Linked DNA regions of Homo sapiens: region 1 is linked to region 2. A link means that fine-mapping ties the variant in region 2 to the expression of a gene that starts in the linked region. Tissue or cell type: lung. Region 2 holds a variant in brackets; the other region holds the start of a gene. All regions are shown on one strand. Distances are from middle to middle.

What was found. PIP is the estimated chance that this variant, and not a neighbour inherited with it, causes the effect.
Region 1: ANGPT4 starts here. The variant in region 2 is fine-mapped to the expression of ANGPT4 in lung (TOPMed, PIP 0.91).

Annotation. Positions count from the first base shown.
Region 1 is chr20:913,653-919,022 of GRCh38, forward strand. ANGPT4 (angiopoietin 4) reads right to left here and starts at 2,682. Exons shown (of 9, transcript NM_015985.4): 1 at 2,254-2,682. The coding sequence starts at 2,562. It overlaps LOC105372492 (a long non-coding RNA gene), which reads left to right. Exons shown (of 3, transcript XR_937185.3): 1 at 1-28; 2 at 3,674-3,769.
Region 2 is chr20:890,147-895,516 of GRCh38, forward strand. ANGPT4 (angiopoietin 4) reads right to left here. Exons shown (of 9, transcript NM_015985.4): 2 at 67-222. Among named protein-coding and RNA genes, the nearest start is that of ANGPT4, 24 kb to the right of the region's middle. The variant G/A (reference allele first, on the strand shown) is at 2,365.

The DNA.
Region 1 (5,370 bases), 24 kb after region 2:
GGGATTCAAAGATGGATGAGAGTGAGAGGTGAGACTTGGGGTAGGAGGCCCAGTGGGAGGTGATGACAGCATCCTGGGAAAGATGACGAGGCCTAAGCCAGAAAGATGGACCATGAGAGAAGCCTAGGCCACAGGATGGGCTGGGCCAGCTGCCTGGGGGATAGGTGGGAGCCACAGGAAGCCCCCAGGGCACAGCCTGTGGCTGGGTGGTGGTGTCACCCTAAACAGAGACAGACAGGCAGGAGGAGGGTGTTTGGAGAAGAGCAGGGAGTCGTCTCAGGCAGCTTTGGAGTTGAGACACCCATGGACCCTCAGGGAGGTGTTGGGGGAGATCCAGGTCATGGGTTTTGGGCTCAGGATCCCATCAATGCCAATTTTGTGTCATCACGGAGCAGGATGGAGACCTGGGACCTGAGAGATTGGAAGGACATTTATGCATTCATGCATTCACTCATGCTACAGACATTTATTGAGTACCTACTGTGTGTTCGGCACTATTCTAGGCCCTGGGAACCCAGAAGTGAGCAAAAGAGACATGGCGCCTGCCCTCTGGGAGCTCACACACCAAAAGAAATGTTTTTAAGAACATTAGGTAGGGATAAGTTCTAAGAAAAAAAAACACAACAAAGCCAGCAGAGGGACAAAGGGTGGAAGAGGAAGGTGGTTATTTCGTACGGGGAGGACAAGGAGGGCCTCTGGGGAGATGGCGCTGGAGAGGATAGGAGGCTGGGGTAAGCAAAGTGGGAGTCTGGGAGAGGGAACTCCAGGGAGTAAGGGTTCTTGCTTTTATTCGGATGCATGGTTAGCCCTGGGAGGAGGGAGAGGATGTAACTTAGGTTTTGATGGGGATTCTTTGGTCTGCTGCATGGAGAACAGGAGGTGGGGGCCGAGTGTTAGCAGGGAGCCAGGGGGGCAGCCAGGACAGCTATCCTGCCTGGAGCCAGAGGTGGTTGTCAAGCTTGTCTGCTGTTTAATACCTTCTAAAACTCCAGGAATTAGTTCGCATCCTTCATTCCTCAGTCATCGCCCAGACTGTCTCCTGGGTCCCTCTCCCTTTCCTTGGTAGCTCTCACTTAGGGACTCTGAAGAGTCCCATCTCAGACCCCCCAGGATGTCTCCTGTACCCTCATGCCCCGCCAGGGCCAAGCCTGCTTTGCACACCTCTGTAGTCAGTGCTTCTCCGAGGGTACACAATAGGTGCTCACACTGCTGAAAGACGAAAGCATGACAGGGCATTCTACAGCAGCCCTGGTCTTGGGCCAAAACCACAGTGGCATCCTCAGCTCCTTGCTTCCTCCCACTCCGCATCCAATTCACCAGCAGAGCTGATGGGCTCTACCTCCAGAACCCACCAGAATCTTACTGGCCACACCCCCTCCTAGCCCCGTTCTGCTCCAGGCCTCCGGTACCTTGCACCTGATGGCTGCAGCGGCCACCTCTTTGGGCTTCTTCCTTCCACCCTGCCTCCTACAGTCTATGCTGTTGAAATCGAATCACGGGTGTCTGTCTCTGCTCACAACCTTGCAGTGGCTCCCATGACACTCAGAACAAAAGCTGAAGTCCTTCCAGTGGCCCCCCCCCCAGCTGCATGGCCTGCCCTGCTGTCACCTCTCAGACCTCCCCGCACCCTTGCTCCCTCTCCTCTGCTCCAGCTACACAGGCCTTCGCCCCATGGTTCTCCAGGCACACACCGCTGCGGATGCATTCCCTCCTCACGGTCAAAATACATGCAGCTCCCTTTGCAGAACGTTCCCTCAAATACCTGCCTGGCCCACTCTATCATTTCCCTTGTTCTCTGGGTTCAAATGTCACCTCCTCTGAGAAGTACTCTCTAATGATCTGACCTCAAGCAGCCACCCAGGGCCGCCACTTGCCCTCTTTCTTCTTCATTTTGCTTCACCATCTGACATAGTAGATTATCTCTTACTGCCTCTTTCCCCTACTAGTCCAGAGGGAGACATACTATACTGTCGTATCCCCAGCACCCAGGAAGGCTTGGTCCGTTCAGCCCTTGGTCAGGGCTGAATGGATTTCTGTTGGATGAATGAAGGGACGGCAGTTAAAGAGCCAGGTTGCCAGCTGACATTGCCCAATCTTGCTGTGTGGCCTCAGACCCACCCCTGCCCCTCTTTGTGCAGCTCAGAGACAGCCCTCTGTGCTCAGGGAAGGCCTCTTGGATGGACACTCCACCTGCTGATTGTGACAGACCCCAAAGCCGCCCTCTGCCCCCTGCAAACCTCCCATGCCCCGTACCTTCTTCAGCCACTGCGTGTTGTTCTGCAGTGCCTGCTCCAGCTGTTTCACCTGCTGGGTGGGCAACTTCCCCAGGTGCAGTGGGTTGGCCAGTGATTCTCTCTGGAGGGTGTTGGAGTCCCTGGAGACCTCAGGCCCCGGAGGGCAGGGCTCAGACTTGGGCAGCAAGAAGGTGTAGCTACAGTGGCCGTGCTGGACTACAAGTGTCTCGCAGCCCCTATCCGCCTCCTGCCTTGTCTGTTGAGCCACAGACATGGTGGCAACCACAAGGAGGAGGCTGCCCTGCAGCATGGCTAGCTGGGAGAGCATCTGAAGATGTGTCAATGGCGAGGGATGTCTGCTCAGAGCCCTAGGGGCTGTGCCTGGGATGTCCTGCTGCAGCCAACAGTGGCCAGGCTTGCCTGCAGCTGCAGCTACAAACCTCTGTCTGGCCGAGCTCTGTCCAGGCAGCTATTTATACTTGCTCTGAATACCACGGCTGCTCTGCTTGCTTCCTCTCACCGCCTCCCTCCGGCCCCACCCGACACCCTCTCACCTCTATTCTTCACTCCTTCCCTTCCTCCTTCCTCAGTCTTGGTGGCACGTCGCCCTTACCCTAAGCGTGCACCAACCTTGCTCTGTCTGCCTCACCTCTGAGCCCTCTGATTATCCAGTGAGGCCTGGCTTCCCTGCTGGAGGGGAGGGAAGAAAACAGCACACAGACACGCGCACACACTCATGCACACACTCACGAGCACACACTCACACGCACGCTGACACGCACACACATTCATGTACACACAAACGCCAAGCTCCAATGCTGCCCGCTTTGGAAAACCAAATGCAACTTAACTCTCCCTTCCTGTCTCTGTCTTGGTCTCCCTCTTTCCCTCCACCCCCATCCCCTGCCCCCCAAGTCTAAGATCTCAAGTTTCAGTCCCGCTGCCATCCCCTTCTCTCCCCGCTGCACCTTCCTCCCTCTGGTTCCATGTTAGCGCTTGGAGTACAAGTGACCCCCGGAGAGAGCAGAGGGAGGGGAGGAGGCAGAGGGGTGAGGCTGGGGAGGGCCCAGCGAATCCACTTTGCCTCTGGAGACACAGAAAATCCTTCCAAGGTGGGGCAAGTGAGCAACCCAGCTGGGAGTTGCTTCCTGTCCTCTCTTCTCCCTCAGGGCCAGGGGAAAGTGGTATGCCCCAGGATGGCCCTGGCTTGGTTGCTTGTAACAGTAATGAGAAGTTGTCATGTCCTGGGGCAGATTGTCCTGGGGCTGCTGGAGTGGGGATGTGGAGAGGAGGCAGTGGGGAGAGGAGGTTGGAGTGCCAGGAGGCTAACCCTAGATCTCGCTCCCCGACAGCTGGCCACGAGACCTAGGGTGGGCAGCTGTGCCTCTCTGGGCCTCCACACCCTGATCTGTAAACTGGGTAAACCTTATCTCTTGCAGGAGGAATGCGTGTGAGTCCTCAGCATGGGGATGGAGAAGTTTTCAGCTTCTGGGTTCAAATCCTGGCTCTACCATCTACCAGCTGTATGACTTTGAGTAAGTCACTTAACCTCTCTGTGCCTTCATTTCCTCCTGAATGAGGAAAATAATACCACCTACTTCACATGGCATGAAAATTAGGTGAGTTAGAGCAAGGTTGGCACAGAGCGAGCACTAAATAAATATTTTCCGTTGTCAATGTTATAGTTGTCATTGCACCTCCCCTCCCACGACCCACTGGAGCATAAACTCCTCTAGGGCAGGGATTTGTCCCTGGGGGACATGGTCTCCAGGCAGAAGGTGCCCAGGAGTTGGTGGGGCCTTTCCTGCATGGGCTGCCTTTATGTTCTGCCAGCTGTTTGGGCTTTTCCTCTCTCCCTGCTTGTTTCCTCAGAGTAGGGGCCAGTCTGGCTGTTTAGTATTTTCCTTTTTGTTCTCTCAAATCCCGATAGAGTTTTGAATTGGGGCAGGCTGCTTCTGGGCAGCTGTGAACTGTGGTCTCATCTGGGGACTGAGAACATTATACCAGGTGTGGGGCTTTTGCAGGCAAAGGAAAAGCAGCTGGTTATCAGCCTCCAGCCTCCCCTGAGCCTTCCCACATGCTCTGAGCTCTGCGTGCCCCGCTTGGCCCCAGTTGCCTCAGCTGTAAATGGGGTCATAGCACCCTGACCATGTGAGAGTAATGTGGACTGATAGCTTATCACAGCTCTGGGTGCAGAGAAGGGCAGTGTGAATGGTGGTCGTCATTATGATTGTCTTGACTGAGCTGCTTGATAATCCCAACGAGGCAGTTACACCAGGCCCCAAGCTTAGATGGGCCCCATGCTTGGTTTACACTCTGCCAGCACTGTCTTGAAATTCTTAATACATTTGGAACAAAGTACTCAGCACTTGCATTCTTCATTGAGTTCCACAAATTAGGTAGCAGGCCCTGCCTGGGAAACATGAGGCTTCCCTCATCCCTCACTCTGCTCCTGACCTTACCATCCAATCAGACCTGTTCTTCCAACATGATCCTTTAGATATTTCCCCCTCTGTCACCTCTTCACTACTCAGAATGCTGGAGCCAGCACATCTGGATCGGAATCTTGGCTTTCCTGACCCCCTATTTGTGTGCCTTTTGCCAAGTTGCCTAACCTGTCTCTCAGTTTCCTCTTCTGTCAAAATAGTGATGTTACAGTGGCTAAAAGACCGATTCCTGCAGTGAGGTTAACACAGAGCCTTTCACATAATACATGCTCAACCAGTGACAGCTGTCATCATTACTCCCTGCTATGATATGAATGTTTGTGTGCCCCCAAATTGATCTATTGAAACTTAGTCAACAAGGTGATGGTATTAGAAGGTGGGGCCTTTGGGAGTGAATAGCTCGTGAGGACTCTGCCTTGGGAATGAGATTAACGCTCCTATCAAACATGTCCTAGACAGCTGGCCTTCCCTTTTGCTAGGTGACGTTGCAGTAAGAAAGCACCGTCTATGAAGCAGGGAGCTCTCACCAGACACCAGATCGGCTGGTGCCTTGATCTTGGAATTCCCAGCCTCCAGAACTGTGAGAAATAAGTTTCTGTTGTTTATAAGCCCCCCAGCTTAGTGCATTTTGTTATAGCAACCTGAATGGGCTAAGACACCCCACCATCACTCTCTTAGACCGGGGTGCT
Region 2 (5,370 bases):
ACTGGGGCTACGAACCAGCCTGGCCAGCCACAGGCCCTCAGTGCCCACTCAGTCACCCTCTGTTACCTGAGCCTCCATGTCGGTCAGCTTGCGGATCTGGGCAGTGGTCTGGTTCAGGAGGCTGGTGCCCAGCTCTAGCATGGGGGCCGTCTGATTCTGGGCCATTTGCTGCTGGACCTGCTCCAGCTTCGACCTCAAGATCGTCTTGATGGCCCTCTCTAGCTGTGGGAGACCATGGGCTGGGGTCACGGGGGAGGGGCGGGGGAAGCCCCCTGTCCCTCCCACGTGTCACCATGGGAGGGCACTGAGCAGCCACTTGAGGCCTCCCTGGCTCAGAACATGCCGGGCCAGGTCAGGCCACCATTACGTCTTGCCTGGACTATCCCAGTAGATTTTTCCCTGGGAGGGATTTATATGCCTGTTTTGTCTGCCTCTCTGCTTCCATCTTTGTCCCCTGCACAGTCCATCCCCCACTAGGCAGCCAGAGGGATCCTGCTAAACCTAAGTCAAGTCACACTCCTCCTTTGCTCAAAATCTTTCCAGGGTTCCTATCTCACGCAGAGGAAAAGCCATGACTGCAGGTTCCTCCGTGACTGGGCCTGCCACCACACTCTCATTCCTCTCCTATTCCCCTCTCCCTCACTCACTTCAATCCCGATGCAATGGCTCCATGACATCCCTCTAACGAAGCAAGCATGTGCCCACAGCTGTTCCCTCACTGTTCCCTCTGGAATCCTCCCCCAACCCTGATCCGCATCTGCGTGGCACACCTCCTCATGCTGTTTCAGCTTTCTTCATACCACTTATCACCACCTGACTTTTTAAAATCACTATCTCTCTTTTTATCTGTCTGTTGTCTGTTTCTCTCTCTAGAATGTCAATTCCATGAAGCCAGGGACTTGGTTTTGCTCACTGCCTTGTTTCTATGTTTAGCACAATGCATGGTGCACAGTGAGTGCTCATAAATGCGCGTTCAATGAATTGATGAAAAAGGGGAAACAGCAAGGGTCAGAGCACAGCGCCCAATCACATGCCCCTTCACCAGCTTCCTCAGGGTGAGTCAGCCAGCAGGGAGTGGGAATGCATCTCTCCCTTGTACAAAGAGTTTGCAGGTCCATTGGCCAAGCTGTGTTTTCTATCTTCAGATCCCCTCTATCTGCCAAATGGGGCTGGACTGGCCAGTCTCCAAGGGTTCTCCCAGCTCTGATGTTCTGGGATCCCACATGCAAATGTTCATTTCTTTGACAGGGCTGCTCTCTTTCCCAAGGGCAGGAGAGCTGGTCTGGCATGACACCAGTATGCTGTTGTAAAGGTGAACAGTGTGTTCTCAGGGCTCGGTGCCTGCAGGCAGAGAGCCAGCTCCCCTCCACCATTGCCTCTCCATTCGGCACACATGCTGGCCTCTCACCATGCCCCCCACCCCTGTCCCTGGCTCCTTCCCTTGCCCTCTCACTCAGTCTTTCAGAAGCCAGCTGGACAGCTCTCAGGGTCCTTGGGAAGATGGGTGCTCCCCAGGAGAGGTGGTGACCTTGGCTCGGGCCAGGCTCCAGCCACTTCCTCCTTCATCTCTTCTCCCTTCTTCCATCTTGACTGTTCACTCCCATCCCTTCCTCACCCTGGAGTGTTTCAAAGGGAGCAAGTTCCATTATCACATCCTGGAGCGGGTGCTTGTGGGCGGTAGTAGTACTGGTTAGAGCTGTGTTTCTCCAAGTGTGGTTCTTCCGTCAGCATCAGCTGAGCTCATTAAAAATGTGAATTTCCAGGTCCCACCGCAGACCTCCTGAACCAGAAACTCTTAATGGTGCCCAGCCAACTGTGGTTAACAACACCCCTGGCTGAGTCAGATGCCTGCTCAAGTGTGAGAGCCCTTGATGCAGAGTAGCAGCAGGGACTGAAGACCAGAGAGACCCCCCTCCTTCTTTCCCTGCATCATCAGCCCACCCCCTCCCTGCAGCACACAAACATGCGCTAACAGCTTCCATCTAAAAACTAACTCCACAGCCTCTCTGGCTGCTTCTCCAGTTTCTCTGATCTCATCAACACAAAACTTCTACAAGTTGTCTCCATTTTCTCACCTTCATACCCACCCTCACTTAAAAAACAACAACAACAACATAACGTTAATAATAAAATGATGTTACGTTTCACACATACAAAAAAGCATAGAGGCCAGGTGCGGTGGCTCACACCTATAATCCCAGTACTTTGGAAGGCTAAGGAGAGTGGATCATTTGAGCCCAGGAGTTTGAGACCAGCCTGGGCAACATGGTGAAACTCCATCTCTACTAAAAATACAAAAATTAGCCAGCCATGGTGGCATAAGCCTGTGGTCTTAGCTACCCAGGAGACTGAGGCAGGAGGATC[G/A]CTGGAGCCTGGGAGGTGGAGGTTGCGGTGAGCTGAGATGCACCACTGCACTCCAGCCTGGGTAACAGAGTGAGACCGTGTCTCAAAAAAAAAAAAAAAGTATAGAGAATAAATATAGCCCATAGTGCTCATCCTCCTGTATACCTCCAGTCATGTCTCTCCATCCTGGGAGGTCCCTTTGCCTTTTGGCGTCTCACTGTTGCCCAGGCTGGAGTGCAGTGATGTGATCACGGCTCACTGCAGCCTGAAACTACTGGCTTCAAACAATCCTCCCACCTCCCAAATAGCTGGGACGACAGGCGAGCACCACCACGCGCAGTTCCCCCCTTCGCTCTTTAATTCACCTTGTCATAGATAGCCCTCCTTGACACTGCCCTCAAGGGACACTCCATCTTGCTTGACATCTCAGGAGCAATCACCTGGATGGCCACTCCCTGTTGCTGGACGACTTCCCCCCAATCCTGGTTTCCTCCTAGCCCCTAACCACCCACTCTCTGACTCCTCCTTTACAGACTCCTACACGGCAGGGCCCCCATGGCCCAGTCCTGGGTCCTTGTCTCTATGTACATTCACTCTCTAGGTCAGGGGTCCTTAATGAAGAAGCCACAGGCTCCATGAACTTGAGTGAGAAAAAAAGATCACATTTTTTGTCCACTAATCTGCAATTAAAATTTGGCATTTCCTTCAATTATGAGCCTAGGTCACAAACCACAGCCATACTAGCAGGTCCTGAGAGTCATTACCAATAGAAATCCCAAATATTTTCATATCACAACACACTCTTACGGTATCTTAAAACATTGTTTTTACTCACCGGGACTTTGGAATTATAGACATCACACCCACCACTGGATAATGCTATGCCTGATCACAGATTTTATTTTTCATATTTTGCTTATGATTTCCATATTACTGAGTGTTCTTATGCTTTGATTTTATGCATTTCTGAGAAAGGATTATTAAGCTTCACCAGGACCAGATGCCAAGAGGTCTGAGGATCCAAATGCATCAGGGCCCTGCCCCAGGGGCTGAGATCGGTCTTTGGACTTCCACATCCCTCTGTGCTAATGGAGCCATCACCATCTCCCACCCAGACTTCTCCCCTGCATGTCCCCAACTCGCCATCTCTGCATGGTTTCCAATGAGCATCTCAAGCCCAGTGTGAAACTCTTCATTCCTCAGCTCCCATCGCCCCTGTCCCTGTAACTCCCACCCCATGCTTCGAAATCTTTCCCATCTCAGGAAATGGCTCCACCCAGTTCTGAAGCCCCAAACCCAGACCTCAATCTTAACTTCTCTTTTTCTTAGCGGCCACACTCAACCCACTAGTAAGTACTGCCCACTGTGATCCCAATTTGGATTTCAAATCTGTTTACTCGCCTTATTCTGGGCCAGGCTGCCCTCCTCTCCATGGGTCTGCCTTTTGTGCCTTCCTGTCTTTAACCCCTCTGTCAGCTCCCAGGAGATTCTTTTTTTTTTTTGCAGTTGCAAGATTTAATAGCATGAAATAGAGTGAAAACAGAGCTCCCATACAAAGGGAGGGGACCCAAAGGGGGTTGCTGTTGCTGGCTCGAATGCCTGGGTTTATATGCCAATCCTTGTCTCTCCCACTGTGCTCTCAGGCAATAGATGATTGGCTATTTCTTTACCTCCCATTTTTGCCTAATTAGCATTTTAGTGAGCTCTCTGATTGGTTGGGTGTGAGCTAAGTTGCAAGCCCCGTGTTTAAAGGTGGATGCGGTCACCTTCCCAGCTAGGCTTAGGGATTCTAAGTTGGCCTAGGAAATCCAGCTAGCCCTGTCTCTCAGTCCCCCTCTCAACAGGAAAACCCAAGTGCTGTTGGGGAGGTCAGCTGATGACCGCACTAACTGCTTCCTGCTGAATTAGGGAGTAGTAGGGGTGGTGCAGTTGAGATTTCCTCGGGAGGGGTGCCTTCGATGTCATTAACATCAGAGCATGGGCTAGCAGGCTGGTCCGGGGGTCCGTGGTAAATCTTAGTCATGGACTGCATGTGAGCTCCCAGGAGATTCTAATGTGTGGCTGGCTGGGCCCACCAGCATGGATGAGGACAAATATAGCTGTATCGAGTTTGGTCTCAGACTTTTTCATGCATCATTGACCTCCTAGAACCTAAATTAAAAAGCAGACATCCAGGTACTGAGCACCTGCTCCAAGTAGTCAAACAGCATATTCATGCCTGAGGTGAGACTTTCCCAGGCATCTTCCCCAAGCTTCTCATTTGCCTGAACATAGACAAACTGAGGCCCAGAAGTCTTGCCCAAGGTCACCATCTGGCAGGCTAGGCTCTAAGACTCCTTGCCTGAGGGCTGCAGAGCTGAGCTGGTGATTCAGGGCAGCTCAGGGTCCCCTCAAGTGACTGGAGCTCCCCAAGCACCTCACTGGTCCCCCACTTGTCCTGTGGTTGCAAGTGGCTGGGCAGGGCAAAGGTTACCCACAGCTGGATCCCATCACCCAGTTTGCCACACCCGCCCACCAGCACAGGCCCTGGGATGGATAATCTGGGCCAGATGGGCTCAGTTAGGCTGGGCTGGGCTCTGGAGACTAATATTGGCCTGGGTGGTGGGAGCTAGGTCTGGCCCATGGCTGAGGCACCAGCTGGAAGGGCAGGGAATGGATCCCAGTGGAGGAACTCACCCAGCGTGGGATCTACTTCTCTTGTTTTTTTGGATCTACTTCTCTCTATGCCGTGCACCGACTCCAGGATTAGACCTGCCCCTTCTCCATCACTCTCAGGCTGCCGAATTCTCAGGCCTATGATGGGGTACAAAGGCCTGACCTTTTGTCACCCTTCCAGCTGGCAAAGAGACTGAGTTTTGGTCCCTGGTCTACTGCCCCATCCCCTTGGCCCTGGGTTTGAGTTCTGGCTCTGCCACACTTTCATTGTGGGCCCTTGGAGACTACTGTGTTTCTCTGAGCCCCACTTTACAGATCTGGGTCATGGGTCAGCACACCCTGCTCCTTGCTGGGGAGAGGGCATTTGCAAAG